3 linked regions of the Homo sapiens genome follow. The protein of the gene in region 3 purifies or fractionates together with the protein of the main gene of each other region. This does not show direct contact. Each region holds a gene or a part of one and is shown on either strand. Other genes may lie near its edges.

Region 1 (7,000 bases), on a different chromosome or scaffold from region 3:
ATCCCAGCATTTTGGGAGGCTGAAGTGGTCGGATCATGAGGTCAAGAGAGAACAGCCTGGCCAACATGGTGAAACTCCGTATCTACTAAAAATACAAAAATTAGCTGGGTGTGCTGGCAGGCGCCTGTAGTCCCAGCTACTCAGGAGGCAGAGGCAGGAGAACTGCTTGAACCTGGGAGGCGGAGGTTGCAGTGAGCCGAGATCACGCCACTGCATTCCAGCCTGGGTGACAAAGCAAGACTCCGTCTCAGAGAAAAAAAATAAAAATAAAAAAAAGAATTGTGGATGGATTTAAAAGGGTCATGCCCACCACCACCACTATGTTCATGCCAACAGGCTTTTACAAAATTCCATACGACAGCCAAAATAAAATCTGTACAAAATAAAATCTGTCTGCAAATAAAATCTGTTAACAGCCTTAGAAGGAGCTAACAGGAAGGGGCGAGGACCATAACTAGATACTCTCTCAGGAAAAAGAAGGCCAGCTTCCATGACTAGAAAGAAATCCAATCAGGCAAGTAGTGCACAATCTGTAAAGAGTTAGGCAACAAGCATTGGGTGGTCTTCAAAGGGAGCAGCAGAATCAGGGAGTTCCAACACAGAATAATGAGGGATCCAAACTAGTCTCCTAAAGAACTTGCTACTGGAAATCTGGGAGCAATAATTACCTGGAGAATCAAGGAGAAAGGCTATCAGTTTAATTCAGGTAAACTCAGGAAAAGCTCTCAGACTGCCCAGCCAATGGGAATTAAATGACTGAAACCAAGGCAAGAGATGAGTTGAAAAAGCTGGGAGCCATGTAAGGACCAAAAACAATTTACTCATTGATATTTATTTATTTATTTGGAGACAGAGTAAGCTGTCGCCCAGGTTGGAGTGCAGTGGCACAATCACGGCTCACTGCAACCTCCACTTCCCAGGTTCAAGCAATTCTCATGCCTCAGCCTCCTCCTGGGTAGCTGGGATTACAGGCATGCACCACCACACCTGGCTAATTTTTGCTATTTTTTTAGAAGAGATGGGGTTTCACTGTGTTGGCCAGGCTGGTCTCAAACTCCTGGTCTCAAATGATTTGCTTGCTTCGGCCTCCCAATTTTTACTGAATTTTAAAAGGTCCCAGCCATAAATGTATTTGTCCAAGTTACATAACCCATTATTAAAAATATATATGAAGATACAATTGTAAGATACAAAAGAAGATACAATTGTGAGATACAGAAGATTTCTAGATTTGTTCGACCAGAAGCACTGTGTTTGACTTAGAATCTGAGACTGATAGTAAACTATTCACAAATTATGTAATATTGATAGCACAAAGTTTCCATGGTCCTAACTTAGAGAATTTTTAAAATTTGTGTGAAAATTCACAAAAGTTAAAAGTGAAGACTATTCAACTGGTTAAGGGTATCCACAAAATAAAAACGCTAAAGCAGCAGCCAATGTAGGCTCCTATTTTTAGCCAGAAAGATTCCATTACTTAGAGATCCTCTTTCCAACCCCAACATCTTGCAAGAAGTGAAACTTGGAAGAGATCAGTAAAACAGTAATAACAACCCTGATTTCCTTCTGCTGAGACTGCACAAACCTATGGCAAGATTATCTGAAATGAAACCAACCAAAGTTTTAATCCTATATTTTGTCCCTGTCATATAATCACAGATATCAAAGACATATTAAAAGATATTCATATACTTTATAATTCAATAAAATAAATTCAAATTCATGGTTTACTTGTTTTTAAATGTAGATCCTAATGATCTTTTATTCTAACCTAAAATTATAATGGTTATAAATACTATAGACTCATAGTTTATTCCCCCGCCATACTTAAAGACACTAAATCAAAGGTACACCAGAGTTCAGCCTTACCAGCCCAACAAATCAAACAAACTTTTTTTATTTCCCCTTAAAATGGAAAGTACATACTGGCATAACTATACCCAAGTGTGCATTCAGCACTAATTATTATTTTACAAACTTAATAAGCATATTTACCTGTGGAGATTTTTAATATGAGTAGGAAAAAGTGATAGTATAAAAGCTGATAAGACCAACAACTAAAAACTAATTTTCAATAACTGCATTCTAGTGTAGCAGGTAAGAAAACTGGCCGGGCACAGTGGCTCACGCCTGTAATCCCAGCACTTTGGGAGGCCTATGCGGGCGGATCACGAGGTCAGGAAATCGAGACCATCCTGGCTAACACGGTGAAACCCCGTCTCTACCAAAAATACAAAAAATTAGCCAGGCGTGGTGGCGGGTGCCTGTAGTCCCAGCTATTCGGGAGGCTGAGGCAGGAGAATGGCGTGAACCCGGAAGGCGGAGCTTGCAGTGAGCCGAGATTGCGCCACTGCACTCCAGCCTGGGCGACAGAGTCAGACTCCGTCTCAAAAAGAAAAGAAAACAAGCTTTAGAATCTGCCTGGATAGAAATATGCTTCTACCAAGGTCTTGTGACCTTGGAGAAATAATTTAACCTTTTTTTTTTTTTTTAATCTCACTTTGTCGCCCAAGCTAAAGTGCAGTGGTACGATCCAGGCTCACTGCAACCTCCATCTCCCAGGTTCAAGCGATTCTCCTGCCTCAGCCTCCCAAGTAGCTGTGATTACAGGCGTATGCCACCATACCTGGCTAATTTTTGTATTTTTAGTAGAGATGGGGTTTCACCATGTTGGCCAGTCTGGTCTCGAACTCCTGACCTCAGGTGACCCGCCTGCCTCAGCCTCCCAAAGTGCTGGGATTACAGGCATGAGCCACCACGCCCGGCCCATAATTTAACCTTTCTATATCTCAGTTTTCTCATCTATAAAATGAAGGAAATACTGGTACGTACTTCACCCAGTTACTGTGAAGCTAAAGGGTGATCTCCTAAGAGAAGCAGTGAGAGTAGTGCTATCACCCAGGAAGAGCTCAATAAACGTTCACTTTTAAGGAAATGCATTAAGGAGCTACTCAGACAAACTTGACAGTGCAATGTCAACATACCATATTACATACCATATTCCAACCTTAAAGTAACAAGCCAATGACATCCTTAGAGTTGGCACATCCCAGTGAGGTATTCAATTTGTATACATATTTTATGCAGACCATATGTCAAGAAAAATCCTTTACTTGGTCAAATAAGTCTGAATATACTATTACATTAAATCATAATTGAGCTGTTCTTCACTTTCCAAGGGGCTACATCCAAGTAACTGCATGTTGGCTTGGTTCAGACATGCCAATGTAGTCTAAAGGAAAGGGGACTCTGAAACTACCAGCCAGATATTTTTAAACAAACAGAAGCCTTGAGGTTTTTTTAAGTAAATAAAATTGTTTGCAGTAATTATTTAGGCTGGCCATTATCTTATTCACTAAATTGCCCAACTCTACTTCTTTTTGCATGATTTTCTTAATAGCCAGTATACTAAGCATGCTGCTATTTTTCTGACTTGATTCTTTTACTTATGAGGTAAATAATATACCAGATAATCTAGAAAATTCATGGAAATCATCAGTTTCCTCACCAAGCAATTACTCATTCCAAAATGAGAAAAGGGCATGTGAACAGTCTCTGCCTTACTGAATGGTGTTATTTCTCAGGCTGTAAATCAAGCTTTAATTTTTTCAAAAACTATCATAATCTGAAATTAGGATATATGGGTTGCGTATCACTTATCCAACATACTTGGGAACAGAAGTGTTTCAGATTTTGAATTTTTTTTTCAGATTTTGGAATATTTGCATATACATAATGAGATATCTTAAGGATGAGACCCAAGTCTAAGTATAAAATTCATTTATGTTTCTGGCTGGGTGCAGAGGCTCATACCTGTAATCCCAGCACTTTGGGAGGCCCAGGCGGGCAGATCACTTGAGGTCAGGAGTTTGAGACCAGCCTGGCCAATATGGTGAAACCCCGTCTCTACTAAAAATACAAAAATTAGCTGGGCGTGGTGGTGCACTCCTATAATCCCAGCTACTTGGGTGGCTGAGGCAGGAGAATCACTTGAACCTGAGAGGTGGAGGTTGCAGTGAGCCGAGATCGCGCCACTGCACTCCAGCCTGGGCGACAGTGCGAGACTCCACCTCAAAAAAATAAACAACAACAACAAAAAAACTTCATTTGTGTTTCTATACACCTTATACACATAGCCTCAAGGTAATTTTATACAATATGTTTAATAATTTTGTGTGTTTTGACTGTGATCTCATGAAATCAGGTGAAGAATTTTCCACCTGTAGTGTCATGTTGATGCTCAAAACGTTTCTGACGTTAAAACACTTTGGACTTCAGATTTTTAGGTTATCTGTATTCCCCTCAAAATGAACTGTTTATTCCACCTGCAGAACTTAAAACTTTTGGCTGAAAGGCAAAGTTTTCATTCAACATTTGCATGGTCTTATGATGTCTGGCAGAATAATGTCTATATCAGGGAAAGGACAGGCAAATCATTAAGCTAGAAGATGAAGAGCTTCTTAAAAATATTCCAGAGTCAAATATTATTTCTCCTCACATTCCACTTGAACTTTCAAGTCTGAGAAAGACTACAAAAATATCCAGGGGAACAGAAATGGTCATACAGCCAACCAAATGAACCAAATAACTTAGCACAGGGTTTCTAAAACTGTGGTCACCCGGCCAGTAGTTTGAGCATCACCAGAGAACTTGTTAAATCAGAAATTGAGGGTAGGGTCCAGTGGTCTCTTTTAAGAAGCCCTCTAGGTAATTCTGACACACACACTGAAGTTTGAGAATCTCTGGTTTCTGATAATCAAGCCCTGACACTGAACACCTTCAATTTTCAGCTTAGGGCTCCTATCATAATGTGCTCCATTGTGGCTGGGAGTCTCTGGGCTATGTTTGTGCCTTTCCGCCAGATATTGCAGTCAAGATTCTACCACAGAGCCAAGGCAAATTAACCTCCACTTCAGACTGCAAGGAGGAGAGAGAATAAAAAATGATTACAAAAAAAGAGATAGATCTATCTGTCCACAGAACAAACTTCTTAGAAAGCACAGAGAGGTGAAATCTTCCAGGTTTCAATTTCTCTGGTATTCTTACTAGTATATTCTCAAAGCTACTAACCATCAACTTTGAAAAAGAACTGAAAAATGACCTTCTAAAAATATATTGACAAAAAAACTGGTTACGTGAATAAAGCTCAGATAGTAATACACGTTTTTAAGAGAACTGAGAGTTGGGAAAACACTGGCATTAAATTCCTTTTTTTAATCTTAAGAACACAATTTGTAAAGTCTCTTTAAAATCATTCTTGCAAGCTTCAGTAAATAATACACAAAAACAACCAATAAACATTATAACAATCATGTTTTTACCTTTTAAATGATTGTTCATCCTATAATTATAAAACATAATGATGCTTCAAAACTCACAGGCAAATGTTAATTAAAAATTAACATAACAAAGTCTCATATTTTCAATAACAACTCCTGCTTTATTTTTTATTGTAGTAATGTATGTATAACATAAAATAACTTTTTAACAGAAAAATTTGGGTAATGCCATACAGACTCTTTTTGCAAGTGGATAAATATTTACAGAGTATTAGTGACCTATCCTAGACCTTTGGGAGAGAATCAGATATTCTTGTTTCCCCAATCAGTTTAAGTCTGTAATTCACTTCATGCCAATGGGATTAAGCCCTTTTCCCAGTTCAAATATTCAAGTTTAGCTGAAATGTGCTAAGCCTGACATTCCTCCTGTATAAGACTACATAGGCTTGACTAGAGACAGATCTGCATTGGCATACATTTCACCCCCATCTCCATTTCTCTTTGCACCTTGGAGAAACAGTGGTGCATTGAGCCATTCTGGTTGAATGCTTCTCCTGACACACATCCTTAAATTGACTCTGACCCAAAGGGAGGTGTGGAGCCAAGAGGGAACACATCACTGTGGCAACTCCCCACAACAGACCCCCAAGCGATTAGTACAGCACTCCCAGCTCTAAGGTCAAATGTAGATCCAACTCCAATATGTGAGTAGATACTCTTGAAAACATTATCATTTTATATTAGTAACCACAATCCTCCAACTCGGTGGCTCTGCATGAACACAAACTTTGCCATGGTGACCATATATCTCGGTTTGTCCTCAACAGTCCAGGTTTATTACTCACAGTGCTTGTATAATTATTAGTGGTGCCCCTTTTGACAATAAAATTGTCCCATATCAAACAATAAAGTATACGGTCATCCAACAGATAGGGCCATTGCATTAAAGGAATAGGCATGACAGACAAACCACAGACAAGTATGTTAGGGGATGTTTGCAGGTCTACTGCTCTAGGCTACGTTTGTAGACTTTATAGACTCTGTCGAGGACTGAGGGAAACACTTAGGAGACTCTCTTAACAATGATCTTAAGTCCAAATAAATAATTCTCCACTTCAAATATAGAACTCAGAACAAAGCAAACAGCAGGTCTTCCTTCTGATTTCAAGGGTCCCTAGAACTATCCACAGCCAACTCTGCATGAAGCATACTGCTGGATGATAATATGTTGAACTGACCCCTTTAACATGTCTAGCTGCAGAATCAACACTTCTGGGAATTTTTCTGCTAAATTCTTCAAAAAGGATGGTCCCAGCTTCCCCTACTATGACAGCCATATCAAATGAACCTGGATGCTCTAAAGGAAATACAGCAAACAGCACATAGTGTCAATGACTGCGCTTGTCCACTCAACAAATATTTATGCCAAAGATCAAAAGTGGCCGCTCATGGATCTCTAAAGCCATCTCTCAGATGTGTATTGTTTGGCCCAGATAGGATTCTTAAATGTTTACAATATTTGCCAGTACTTTAAAATGCGGGGTCATATATAAAAATTCAGATTTCCACTCTCTCTTGGGAAATCAGCAGCTCTAGCAACGCTAGACTTGCATCCTATTCATGCAATTTCCAAGTGGAGCTAAGTAGCACCTTGAGAAAGGCCACCCACTATCCAGTCCTCCATGGTCCTCACTCAACCCTCTTCTTTGTTATTTGAGTTT
Region 2 (4,043 bases), on a different chromosome or scaffold from region 3:
CCATAAGAATTAGACATCTGTGGCCCTGAAACCACAGATACTAGTAATAGTGACTCAAAGAGTAGAAAAAAAATCACATTTCAATACTGAATCATTTTCAGGTCTGTGGTGTATAACTACACAACAAGATTCTATTATAAGCAATAGCATGTTCCTTCCACTTCAAATTATAACCCCCATCAGTTCAATGGTAAGAATTTTTAGTAAATACAGTGGTGGGTGTATTCTTTTTGTGAGCCTAGAAGGGCTCACTTGCTTATCTGGATGCTTTAGCCAGTCAAGGATATAGATAAGGATGCCATTGATATGAATTTGTGAGATTATTTTATCCTAGTCTCACTTCTTAGTGAGTAGACAGAACTTCAATTTCTAACATTTGTTTTATGAAAATTCCTCAACTTACCTATAAAAAAGGTGTAATCAGCTATTATTTCCTTTTAGTAATAAGATTACATTGAAACTACTATAATACTTTAAGATAATAGACAGGAATAATATAATCATCTTATGACATATTAGTTTATTACATGCATAAAACTATAAATGATAAAAATGAAGAATGTAATGAACAGTTTATGTTTTTTTAAAACAAAGTCAGATTTTAAAAGTTGTACACGGAGAGCAAAAATCACTTTACGTACTCATGATTGGCTTTAATATTTCTTTACACTATACATACTGAAAATGTTTACATTTACTAATAAGGAATGCCAAGCGTATCCATCACCATTTGAATAGCTTGCAGGGGATTTGTGATTTCTTCCATGTTATCTCTTCTCAAAACCCAATCTGGCTTAAGTCTGTTAAAAAAAAAAAAAAAGTCTGGCATTAATAAAGTTCTTCTCTTTAGAGTTACCTTCACCTTTTTTCTCTTAACTAAATTGTAGCTACTCCTGAACACATCATTTCCCTTACAAACTGCTCAAAGAGGTGGGAGAACTTCATATTATTGCCCATCACTAGTTCCAGACTATTTCTCTCCATCCTTTCTAAAAAATAATGCTGGCTTCTTTGAAGCTTATGCTATTTAGCTTGACCACTGCCTTTTGGTCATCAGCCAAACTCTCAGTGTCTTATTCCTTGTAAACCTGGTTCTTGTTCTCCTCTTACCTACTGTCACCGTTCTCAGCAACAGCAACATCTATGTGGCCAAAAAGCCAACAACCTAGTCCGTTTTTGCCCCACTTTCCTTCAATTCTACCTCAACCAATCCTTTTTAATATGATCACATACTAGACTTTGTCATCATCAGAAAGTGTGCGACCACTGAAATCTTGAGACTTCCATTCTCCATCCACCATTTCTGATTCATCCATGTCATATGCTCTAACACAGTCATTGAACCAGTTCTTCTACCCCACTGAGATCTCCACTTCATTTGGCCTCAACACATACCCAACATCCACCAGAATGCTGTCCTTACTTTCCTGTGTATCTAGCTCAGGTGCATCAGTATTATCAAAACCTTTGCAAATGCCATTAACTGTTGTCTCTCTCTCCTACCAAACTAGTCTGAAGAATTCTACTTGGATTTCAAATTGAGTCAAAATATCTGCCTTCTCCATTCCTATACAGCTGCATATTACTAAAAATGTTTACACAACCAAGCTGATTTTATTTTTTGCCAATAATTACAAATCTAAAATGAGCATTTGAAATTGCCAGCATGCTCCCTTTCTCTCCAAGATGACTATCTTGGTCCTTTCCTCTTTTCAAACTTCCCCTCCATACCCTCTGAGCTGCTTCTGAGTTGTTGAGTTTATAATCTCAAACTTATTGAGAAAATAGTATCAAACCGAGGGAGTTCATGCATCTTCTCACATAATTCCCTACTATATGCATTTCCATCATCTTATTTTGTCCTGCTAAAAATCCAAAGATATATCAATTGGTGAGTGAACAAAGTGTGGTACGACCATACAATGGAATAGTACTAAGTGATAGAAAGGAATGAAATTCAAATCCATGCATAAACATGAACGAATTTCAAAAGCATTATGCTAAGGAAAAGAATCCAGTCACAAAAAGCTATCTACTATATGATTCCATATATGTGACAGTATAGAAATGGCAAAACTAAAGGTACAAAAATCAGATCAGTAGTTCCCAAAATCCAGGGAATAAAGAAAGAGAACTGACAACAAAGGGGCATAAGGAAACTTTGTGTTACAGAAATATTTTGTATCTCAGTGGTGGTAGTTTCCTAACTGTATACATTTGTCAAAACGAATTGAATTGCATACATTTAAAGGATGCATTTATACTGTCAGTAAATTTTACCTCAAAAGCCTGACCTACATCAAAATTTTAAGAGAATCCATTCATATGTTAGTATGAGCTTTTAAAACATAATGAATATTAAATTCTACCAAGTCCTTAAAAAACATGTAGAAATGGTCCCATTAATATATTTCAAGCAAATGAACTTTACATTATGCTGTGAAATATGCATGCATAAAACCAATTTATAACTACATTATACAGTTTATAATTATGAGTATAATTATAAAGCTAATGGCTGTGTAACCACTCAGGTCAAGAAATAGTGTGTTGTCAATAATGTAGGATTTGTACCTAGTATAGAGAATTGCTAAGTCTCAAGAAGGAAAGAAGGAAGGAAGGGAGGGAGAGAGGGAGAAGGGGGAAGAAAAAAAGGAGGAGGGAGAAAGAAGGAAGGGAGTAAAAACACTAATTAAATGCCATGACGGTTCACCAAAATAAATTAAATCTTTTTGCCAATAAAATCAGAAAATGTCAATCTAAATTTCCAGAAGGAGAAATTTCAAGAATCAGGGTGATTATGGGAGGACTGGAGGTTGATATTTTGGCTAAGAAGGACTTTTGGCACTTCTTAAACAGTGTAGTTTGTCTTTCATGCAAAATAAAATAAATAAAATAAAATGACAAAACTTATAACAAGCTTCTTAGCCTTAGCTCTTAACTATTTAATATAAGAAGTTTGTTGAATAACTATTAAATGTCCAAAGCTACAGTATAATGTTATTTCTTTATTTACCAAGACTGCTTCTTTTAAATTTACCAAACATTCCATTCTTATTCATATGTTGTTTCTCCACTGAAAAGCACATCTTGTTTATGGTAAGTGCTCAATAAATATTTGTTAAATGAATGAATGAACAGTGACACAAATTTATGGACTATATTTAATTGCTTACCTTGAAACTATTCTGGTCCTTACAGGTGTTTCTGGGATAAAAGGAATGCTTATAGAAGAATTCTTCTTTTGCTTGTAAAGTATTCTTTCAGTATTCATTTTATGTTTATGAGCTGTAAGTTTGTAGAGACTGTAAATACGGTCAACAACTTTGGACCTACTTCGTACATCCTACAAAATAAAATGCACAGTTACTAAAAAGTAATAAGAATTAAAATTTTATCTCTTTTAGACTAGCAAAATCAAATATAATAAAAACTATGCAGTAAACCTTTTTTTTTTCTTTTTTGAGATGGTCTCTCTTGCTCTGTCGCCCAGGCTGAAGTGCAGTGGTGCGATCTTAGCTCAATGCAATCTCTGCCTCCCGGGTTCACGCCATTCTCCTGCCTCAGTCTCCCAAGTAGCTGGGATTACAGGCACCCGCCACCACACCCGGCTAATTTTTTTTGTATTTTTAGTAGAGATGGAGTTTCACCGTGTGAGCCAGGATGGTCTCAATCTCCTGACCTCGTGATCTGCCTACCTCAGCCTCCCAAAGTGCTGGGATTACAGGCGTGAGCCACCGTGCCCAGCCTGCAGTAAACTTTTAAGCTTTGAATAATCAAAGAAACCTCACCAAGTTTGGCAGGTAGATTGATTTAAATTACGAGCTAATTTGCAAGGCAATTATAAGGAAGATAAATATTCAAAAGTTGCATACTTAACTCCACACTGAATATAAGAAGGAATTATTATAGTCAACATAGCAATTATAGTCAACACACCTATCATATCCAGTTACCAAGTCTTGAAAAGTTTACCTCTGCAGTTTCCAAAGTCTTCTACTTACCTCTCAGCGACACAATCCTAAGACAAGCACAATCTCTTG
Region 3 (8,026 bases):
TGAGTCTAATACTCACGGGGAAGAGCATTCTAGTTTGACCACTTAGAAAAGGAACTGCTAATTTGGAAGATCTTGTTAGCATAATTTATTTTGTCACTTTTAAGACAGCCCACCAAGAGGCAGTATATTGTGGTACTTAAAGACTGGCTCTGAGGCTGGGCGCAGTGGCTCATGTCTATAATCCCAGTGCTTTGGGATGCCAAGGCAGGAGGATCACTTTAAGCCAGGAGTTCAAGACCAGCCTGGGCAACAAAGCAAGACCCCATCTCTACAAAAAATAAATTAGCTGGGTGTGGTGGTATGTGCATGTAGTCCCAGCTACCAGGGAGGCTGAGGTAGGAGGATCGCTTGAGCCCATGAGTTTGAAGCTGCAGTGAGTTGTGATCCCACCACTACACTCCAGCCTGGTCAACAGAGTAAGACCCTGTCTCAAAAAAAAAAAAAAAAAAAAAAAAGACAGGCCCTGGAGTTTGAAATCTTGGCTCTGCTACTTGCAACCTATGTGAATTCAGGATATTTACTAACATCTTGGTGTCTCTGTTTTCTCATCCTTAACATGGGAATGATAGTTATAATACCTACTTCACAGTGCCAGTGTAAGGATTAAGTGTATACTACTTAGAATAGCAGACCTCGGTTCATTCAAAGCCAGTTGTGAGACTGTCAACAAGTCATTTAGCATCGCTGCATTTGAGTTTCTTTATCCATAAAATGTCTACTTAATAATTAGAGCTACAATTTACAGAATGCTTATTGTATGTAACGGGGCCTTGAAGTACTTATTTGTCCCATTTTACTGATGAGGAAACCGAGGCTGAGGAATTAACTAACTTGTTCAAAAGTGACAGAGTTGGTTGGGGTGGAGTCAGCATTAGGGCAAAAATCCATCTGATTCCAATTCCTTGTTTTCCCTATACATGCTCTTTTAGGCTCCCAGTCTCAACTATGGGTCTACGAACTTCAGAAAACAGCCCTTTTCAGTTAGTTTCAGCTGCCAGTAGGCGGCTCCAAAAAATATTAAAAAAAAAAAAAAAACCCGCAAGTTTGATGATCTAACTTCTAAATCTGTGTACAGTTGTGGCTCCTTCACAGTTTCAGGAAATCAGGTGGCTAAACGTACCGTCATTGAAAAGCAGCTTCAGAATTATCCTTCTTTTTATCCCACCCTCTTCCACTACTTTAAAAACGTGCAGATTCTAGTAATTTAAAATGGGTTTTGAACTGGAGAAAAACCAAGCCAAGAAAGTTATCTCTGCTTGTTCCACTTATATGAAGACTAGATTCAAGTAATTTAAAATGGATTTTGAACTGCAGAAAAAACCAAGCCAAAAAAGTTGTCTTTGCTTGTTCCACTTATGTGAAGACTGTTCAACTAGTGTGCAAGGGAGGTTATTCCCCCAGGGATCCACCCCTGTCTGCCCCTAAGGCTGAAAGACAGTGGACAAAGACAAGAGTAAGTGGTAATTCATAGCCTGATAATCTTGAATTTTGAAAGCAGACATCAGAGGAAGCAATGGCAGGAAAGAACAAAAGATAGGATGAGAAAACAAGACCTTGGTCACAGAAATTAGTAAGGTCCTGGTTCCAGGCAGGGGCCTTTTAAAATTATGCTGCCAGTTCAGAATTACACTGATTGCGACTTAAAAGCTTCCCAGTGCTTTTCACATCTGCAAATGAAAATGTATTTCAATTACCAGGCTGGTGATTTCAGTATCGTGGGGGAACTCATTATGACTTCTGTTCAGTGACCCCAAGGGTCACATTGTTCCCCCTTTTCCCAAAACTATTGTGCATTGAGAAAAGGCTTTTTTAGCAATAGATGCCCAAGTCCTTGGGAGTCACAGTTGTAAAGAGGCTCTTCCTTAATCCACTCTGTATTGGAATTAACCTACTGAGCAGATATAATCAGAAAATACAAGCAAAACAGACTCTCCAGGTAAAATTCAGCTGCCACTTTGAAATACAAACACCATTTCCTTTTATTAATTGGCTGTGTGGCCTTGAGCAACTTAATCTCTCTGTGCCTCGGGTTTCCTATGTGTAAGATAGCCGGGCCTATTTCATATAAGGTTATTATGAGAATCAACTGGGGCGATAAAGCAAAGCCCCCAGCATAGTATATGGCACATACTCAGCGCTCAGTAAGCGTGAGCGATCCAAAGGATCTAAATGTTAAGGGCCAAGGAGAGCGCTCTTTCCACAGGTGCAAAGTCAGGTAGCGAAGACTGAGTTCAAGCCAGGTCAAGCAAGGGACAGGCCGCGGACAGGCGGGGGCCGGTGGCCGGGTCACGGAGCAGGTTCCCCATAGCCGCAGGGCCTCCGGAACTCGGAGGGCAGGCGCAGGGGACGGGATCGCAGGGCGGGGACAGAGCGCCGGGCCACAAGCCCAAGCGCCGCTGTCTTCGGAGATGCGTCCCGGGGGTGGCCGCGGGAGCCCCGACGCCGAGTCCCGAAGGGGCGGCCCCATCCAACGGCCGAGAGCAGGCGGAGGAGGAGGAGTGGAGGGGAGTGAGGAGGGGTGAGAGGAGGAGGTCCCGCCGCGGCCAAGAAAACAAGCCACGCTCGGGGGAGGAGGCAGAGACCAAACTCCCAACCGCCGCCCAGCGCCGGGGCCAGGCCGGGCCCTTGTCCGCGCCGCCGCCGCCTCTGTCAGCCTCTGTCCGCGCCCTGGGCCCCGGGGGCCGCCGAGGACCGACCCACTGGGTGGGCGGCCGGGCCCGGCGGCGGCGAGGGGAGGCAGCGAGGGGGCTCGGTGAACGCGCAACCGGCGCCCCGAAGGCAGGGCGCGCGGCCGGCCCCGCCGGGCTCAGGAGCGGGCAGCGCTGCGGCCCCAACCGGCAGCGAGGCGGCCCTGGACGGACGCCCGCCCGCCCCCCCCCGGCACTTACGTGGGCCCGGGCCGTGCGGGGCTGCGCGGGGAAGGGAGCGGCCGCCGGCTCGGCGGGGAAGGACGCGGGCGGGGCGGGACTGCTGAGGTAGCTGCGGTGGGGCCGGGCTGCGCTGCACCTCGTTCAGGTACCCAGACGGCAGGCGCGGGGCCGGCTCCAGCCCTCGGGTCGCTGCGCCCAGGCCGGCCAGTCCAAGTCCTTTTGTTGTTGTGCAGCGCTCGCAACAGCTGATCGGCCGCTCCGCTCGCCGTCGGGCCCCGCTGCCCCGCCCCGGGCCGCGCCAGGCCGGGCCCCACCAATCGGCGGTGCGGGGGCCCCGGGGCCGCCCTGCGAGAGGTTGTCACCAACGCACGTGACCTGGCGCCCGGCCGGCGGCGCGCTCAGCTCCGAAACAAGCCCGGGCAACAAAAACCGGGAGCTGAGCGTGAAGGCCTGGGCGAGCGGAAGGGTGGGAGAGAGGGGCTAGGCCGGGGAGGGAAGCGCTGGGGCCGGGGCCGGCTTTCCAGGAGCCGGCGGGAGCGGGGTGCGTAAGAGGCGGGCGAGGAAGAACCGGCGGGCAACGGGAAGGGCAGAGGTGGATCTCTCCCTCAGCGACCCCTCTCGCCGAGTGAAGGGTCGAGGGTTTGGGGCACAAAGGGCGCAGAACGTTTTTTCCTGTGAGAGGAACATTAAGACTCCTGGGAGGGCTGGGGCTAACGCCTCCGAGAGCCCCACCTGGTCAGCCTAGGGTTAGACGTGTAGCCAGGGTGCTGGGAGGGGGCCGCTGCTGGGCCCCAGATAGAGGGGTAGAGGCCGCTCAATCACGGAGCCAGGCCCCACCTGCTGTAGAAACCGCCACCGAGAGCCGGCCGGGCTTGCTGCACGCTCTGGATTCCGCCTGCCTATAGGCGAGGCACAAGGGACTGCGAGACCAGGCCTGAAGGCAGAGAGGTCAGCAGGCTCGGGGGCCTCTGCTCCAGCGGACAACAAGCGCACCGGGCGGGAACGGCCGCCTCCCCAGGCGCTGCAGCCTAGCTCTCATGTGACCCACGGAACTTAGCCCCTCTGTTCTGTTTGCATACCTGCAAATTGTGGGCATTCACGCCGGGACTGCCAACTCACCAGGTTATTTATAGTGACAAGAGAGTGAGACAGTGGGCTTGAAAGTGTTTTCCAGACCAAGGCTCTGTCCCACATATAGGTGGATTAACTGTCTGGCAAAGGCAGGTGAGTAACGTTGATGCCTATCAGCTCTCATGTGGATACTGTTTGGACTGGGATGTAGTTCTTTGACCTGGGGTGAGCTGTATAGCAACCCTGGAGGGATGCCTATCACACATTACAGTATCTGAAAGACACTCACATTCTGACCCTCACAATGTAGTCAGTCCATTTCCAACAATGCTGGTTTTAAAGGATGTAAATTGCAGTGCAGGGAGTTGTCAGACACCAAGGAGTAATGATCAAAATATGATGGTCATTGGACCTTATCTTGGGAGAAAGAGCTAAAACTGTGTTCTAGATAGTCTCACAGACTTGAACATGCTTTGGATTTTAGGTTTTTGCAAATCAGGCTTGTTCTAATATTTTCTCCCACATGCTATGGTAGGAGCCCCATGATCTCTTGTTTCTCCCTAGGAATCCATTGAAGAGGCCATCTCCACATTCAGAACCAAGGTATGATGACAATTACAAGGGGCTAATTTTTAAAAAGAAAAAGGCCTACCTTTTTCCAGTTTGATAAGGTTTATCATGGTTAAAGCAACATGTGAAATCATCATCTTGTTATGATAGAAAAATTCAATATGAAGTAGATCATTTTTCCAAAGATGACCACAACAGTATCTCCATCATGAAGTGGGTGTATTTTTCTTCCCTTTGAATCTGGGCTGACCCTGTGATTGCTCTGACCAATAGAATGTGGCAGAAAGAATGTTCTAGGACTTCCAAGCCTCGTCATTAAGCAAAAGCATTAAGCAAACCCCACAGCTTCTGCTTTGTACTCTGGAAAATGCCAGCCACCCATGAGGAGAGACCACCCTGCTAGCCACAGGGAGAGGCTATGTGAAAAGAAAGAGATGCCTGGCCAGCTCTAGCTCTTCAGCTCATCCCAGCTGAGCTACCAGACACATGAGTGGAAAAGCCCTTAGGAAGTTCCAGCTCCAGCAGACACCATACTGAACAGAGGAGAGATAAGCCATCCCCACGGAGCACTGCCAAAATGACGGCATTGTGAACAAATAAATGATCATTGTTTTAAGGCACTAAATGTTGGGGTAGTTTTTAAAGCAGCGATAACCAAAACACAAAGCTAACAGAAATGCCCATCACAGATCAGTGACTCTAAACTCTACCAAATAGTGTTTGTGATGAAAACATCTTGTCTCAGGAGTCACTTGCTTTCTGTTTACTCTCTTGCTGATTTATAATCTTCCCACCTGGTGCTTGTTTATTCCCAGTGGTGCACCAAGGAGGGCGTGCCTCAGGGCAGCATAGGTGAAGTCTGTCCCTAGGAGGGAGGAGTACTTTACCACGACATTGTTTGGAACTGTTGGAGCATAATAATAAAAAGCAAACTGACTTTTAGTCAATTTTATTTTAAAATTCTTTGCAGACACACAAATTTACTGTGTACTGCCTGTATCTGGGGTGGATCACTCCCACTGCCTCCCTTCCTGGTATGCCACTGGTTTACATAAATGCATGCAGTGAAACTCAGGAGTAATGTCATCTCCATAGCGTAGAGCTGTCTGAACACAACCAAACTGTCAAATTACACAAATGCAAGCAAGCTTTTCATCTGTTCACTGACAAAGACCCAGCCAGGTTCCCTGCCTGGGCAGATCCAGTGAATCCAACCATCCTTTAATTCACAGAATAATTCTTAGCGTGTTGCTATAGTACCCACTTCCAGGCTGACCCCCTGCTGTGGGGGTGACCCTTTCCCCATCTGTCAGAGTTCTCCTGTCTGTTTTCCATGGAGCTCAATACGCTCCCTTATCTACCCTAACAAAAGGGATTCAACCTCAAGTTTTGTTTGGAAGACTCACAGTGCAGGACCACATTCACACCAACAAACAGATACAATGCAACTAATGCCTCTGCCTCCTGCTTATGAAAGCAGGCTGTGGCCATAACCCTGCCAGTTGCATCGAGGCTGCTAAAGAATGTTGTTTCCTACCAACCCATAGGATGGCTACTTGGGGCAGCCTCAGAACACAAAGCAACAAGTTGTTCTGTCTGTACTGAGGAGAATGGCAAAGTGAAGTCCACTTAGGTCGTTTTCTATCTACCCATCAACAGTTAGGATCTGCTGGGCTTCTACCATGGACACAGCATGTTGCCAAGTGTCTGGGAAAGACAAGAATTTTTTTAAATTGCATTTTAGATAAACAATCACTTAGCATTCCAGTGACATCTATTGTCTTAAGGGAAGAAAGGATCTGACTGGGTCTCCAGAAAGCCTGGAACAAAGAAGCAAGAGATTCTGTGATTTCTGCTTTCTGAAATAAAAACAGAAAACAGGCGTTTAACTGGGCTGCCAGTTACCATCTCAGAAAGGAGTCAAGAATTATTCCAGGGCCATAAGTGTAATAGCTTTTCAAGACCCTGCAACCTTTGTGACTTTTGTATGTTTGTCTTTTTGTTTAACCCTATTTCCACGTGGTGATTAGAAATAAAATCCTTAAAATAAAAAGGGTCTGTGTGCTGGCTGAGGCAGCAGAAAGGAAAAAGGAGGCGGGCCCCCTTCATTCAGTAACCAGTGCTAGGGGGGAGTCCCCAAGAGGTGGGATAGCCTGCGCTGGATTGTAACTAATGATCGCTTCAGGCCTAGAGTATTTTCTCTAGTTTCTGGAAAGTACTTTCAAGGCTTCTTAGTTTCTGGCTGAATGTACAGGTAACCCAATTATTTATGTTAAAACTTAGAGCAGAGGCTGGGCACGGTGGCTTACGCCTGTAATCCCAGCACTTTGGGAGGCCGAGGCAGGTGGATCACCTGAGGTCGGGAGTTCAAGACCAGCCTGACCAACATGGAGAAACCCCGTCTCTACTAAAAATACAAAATTAGCTGGTCATGGTGGTGCATTCCTGTAATCCCAGCTACTCGGGAAGCTGAGGCAGGAGAATCGCTTGAACCGGGGAGGCGGAGGTTGCATGAGCCGAGATCGCACCATTGCACTCCAGCCTGGGCAACAAGACGGAAACTCCATCTCAAGAAAAAAAAAAACAAAAAAAAAACCTTTGAGCAGAAAGCAAGGTCATCCCTTACTGGATATGGTCTAGAGACATGATACAGAATGGCCCTTCATACACCACCCTAGCTCCAAGGAGCCATGAAGCTTGAAGAGGCGCACTGTGTGGGGCAGATGTGACTCGTTCTTGGGGCGGTTGTCAGAGATTAGTTGAAGTGTGTGAGCAAAGGGCTTTTGTAACTCCCGCTGCCAAAGCGACTTCTTCACTCACACTGATACTTCTGGGCACTGCCCAACAGTCCGCATATGCCAGAGGCAACCTGAGGTGGGTCTGTAATCATGAATTGCTTTGTTAGGGTGACAGCATGAGTGCAAGTGCCTTTCTGCTCTTCTCAAAAGGATGCAGATGATATGGTTACTACTTACATAAGCCACACACTGCCTAAATAATCTACCTATTTAAGGAAAACTCGTTTATTGGATTCTTTTTTTTTTCTTTTTGCATGAATGAACTACCTTAAATATCCATTTCATTTTGCAAGATGAATTTATGCTTTTAAATGTCCATGTTTCTCATGGCTTTGGCAAAGCCAGGCCTAAACGTTTTGATCATCCAAGGCAAGGTTTTTTATTTCTATAGTATCCTTTCGGGGCCTCTTTTCCTGCTTTATTCCTCTTTGATAGGAGTAGGCATTTATTTCTCTTAAATATCCATTACATTTTGCAAGATGAATTTTTTTGTTTTGTTTTTTGTTTGAGATGGAATCTCGCTTCGTCGCCAGGCTGGAGTGCAGTGGCGTGATCTCCACTCATTACAACCTCCGCCCCCCGGGTTCAAGAGATTCTCCTGCCTCAGCCTCCCAAGTAGCTGGGACTACAGGCGTGTGCCACCAAGCCCAGCTAATTTTCGTGTTTTTAGTAGAGACAGGGTTTCACCATGTTGGCCAGGATGGTCTTGATCTCTTG

The links. Proteins that work in one complex are often made in the same cells at the same time.
Region 1: the proteins of TP53INP1 (region 3) and TBC1D4 purify together in Homo sapiens (affinity purification with mass spectrometry; 2 studies listed by BioGRID and IntAct, with this or other methods). This does not show direct contact.
Region 2: the proteins of TP53INP1 (region 3) and ASPM purify together in Homo sapiens (affinity purification with mass spectrometry; 2 studies listed by BioGRID and IntAct, with this or other methods). This does not show direct contact.

Annotation. Positions count from the first base shown.
Region 1 is NC_000013.11:75,472,170-75,479,169, forward strand, and holds part of TBC1D4 (TBC1 domain family member 4), read right to left. Parts: intron 1-7,000.
Region 2 is NC_000001.11:197,083,627-197,087,669, forward strand, and holds the end of ASPM (abnormal spindle-like microcephaly-associated protein), read right to left. Parts: intron 3,347-4,043; coding exon 3,177-3,346; intron 801-3,176; coding exon 698-800; 3' UTR 501-697; downstream 1-500. UniProt on the Homo sapiens protein: Involved in mitotic spindle regulation and coordination of mitotic processes.
Region 3 is NC_000008.11:94,946,266-94,954,291, forward strand, and holds the start of TP53INP1 (tumor protein p53-inducible nuclear protein 1), read right to left. Parts: upstream 3,114-8,026; 5' UTR 2,889-3,113; intron 2,080-2,888; exon of another isoform or gene 1-2,079. UniProt on the Homo sapiens protein: Antiproliferative and proapoptotic protein involved in cell stress response which acts as a dual regulator of transcription and autophagy. Acts as a positive regulator of autophagy.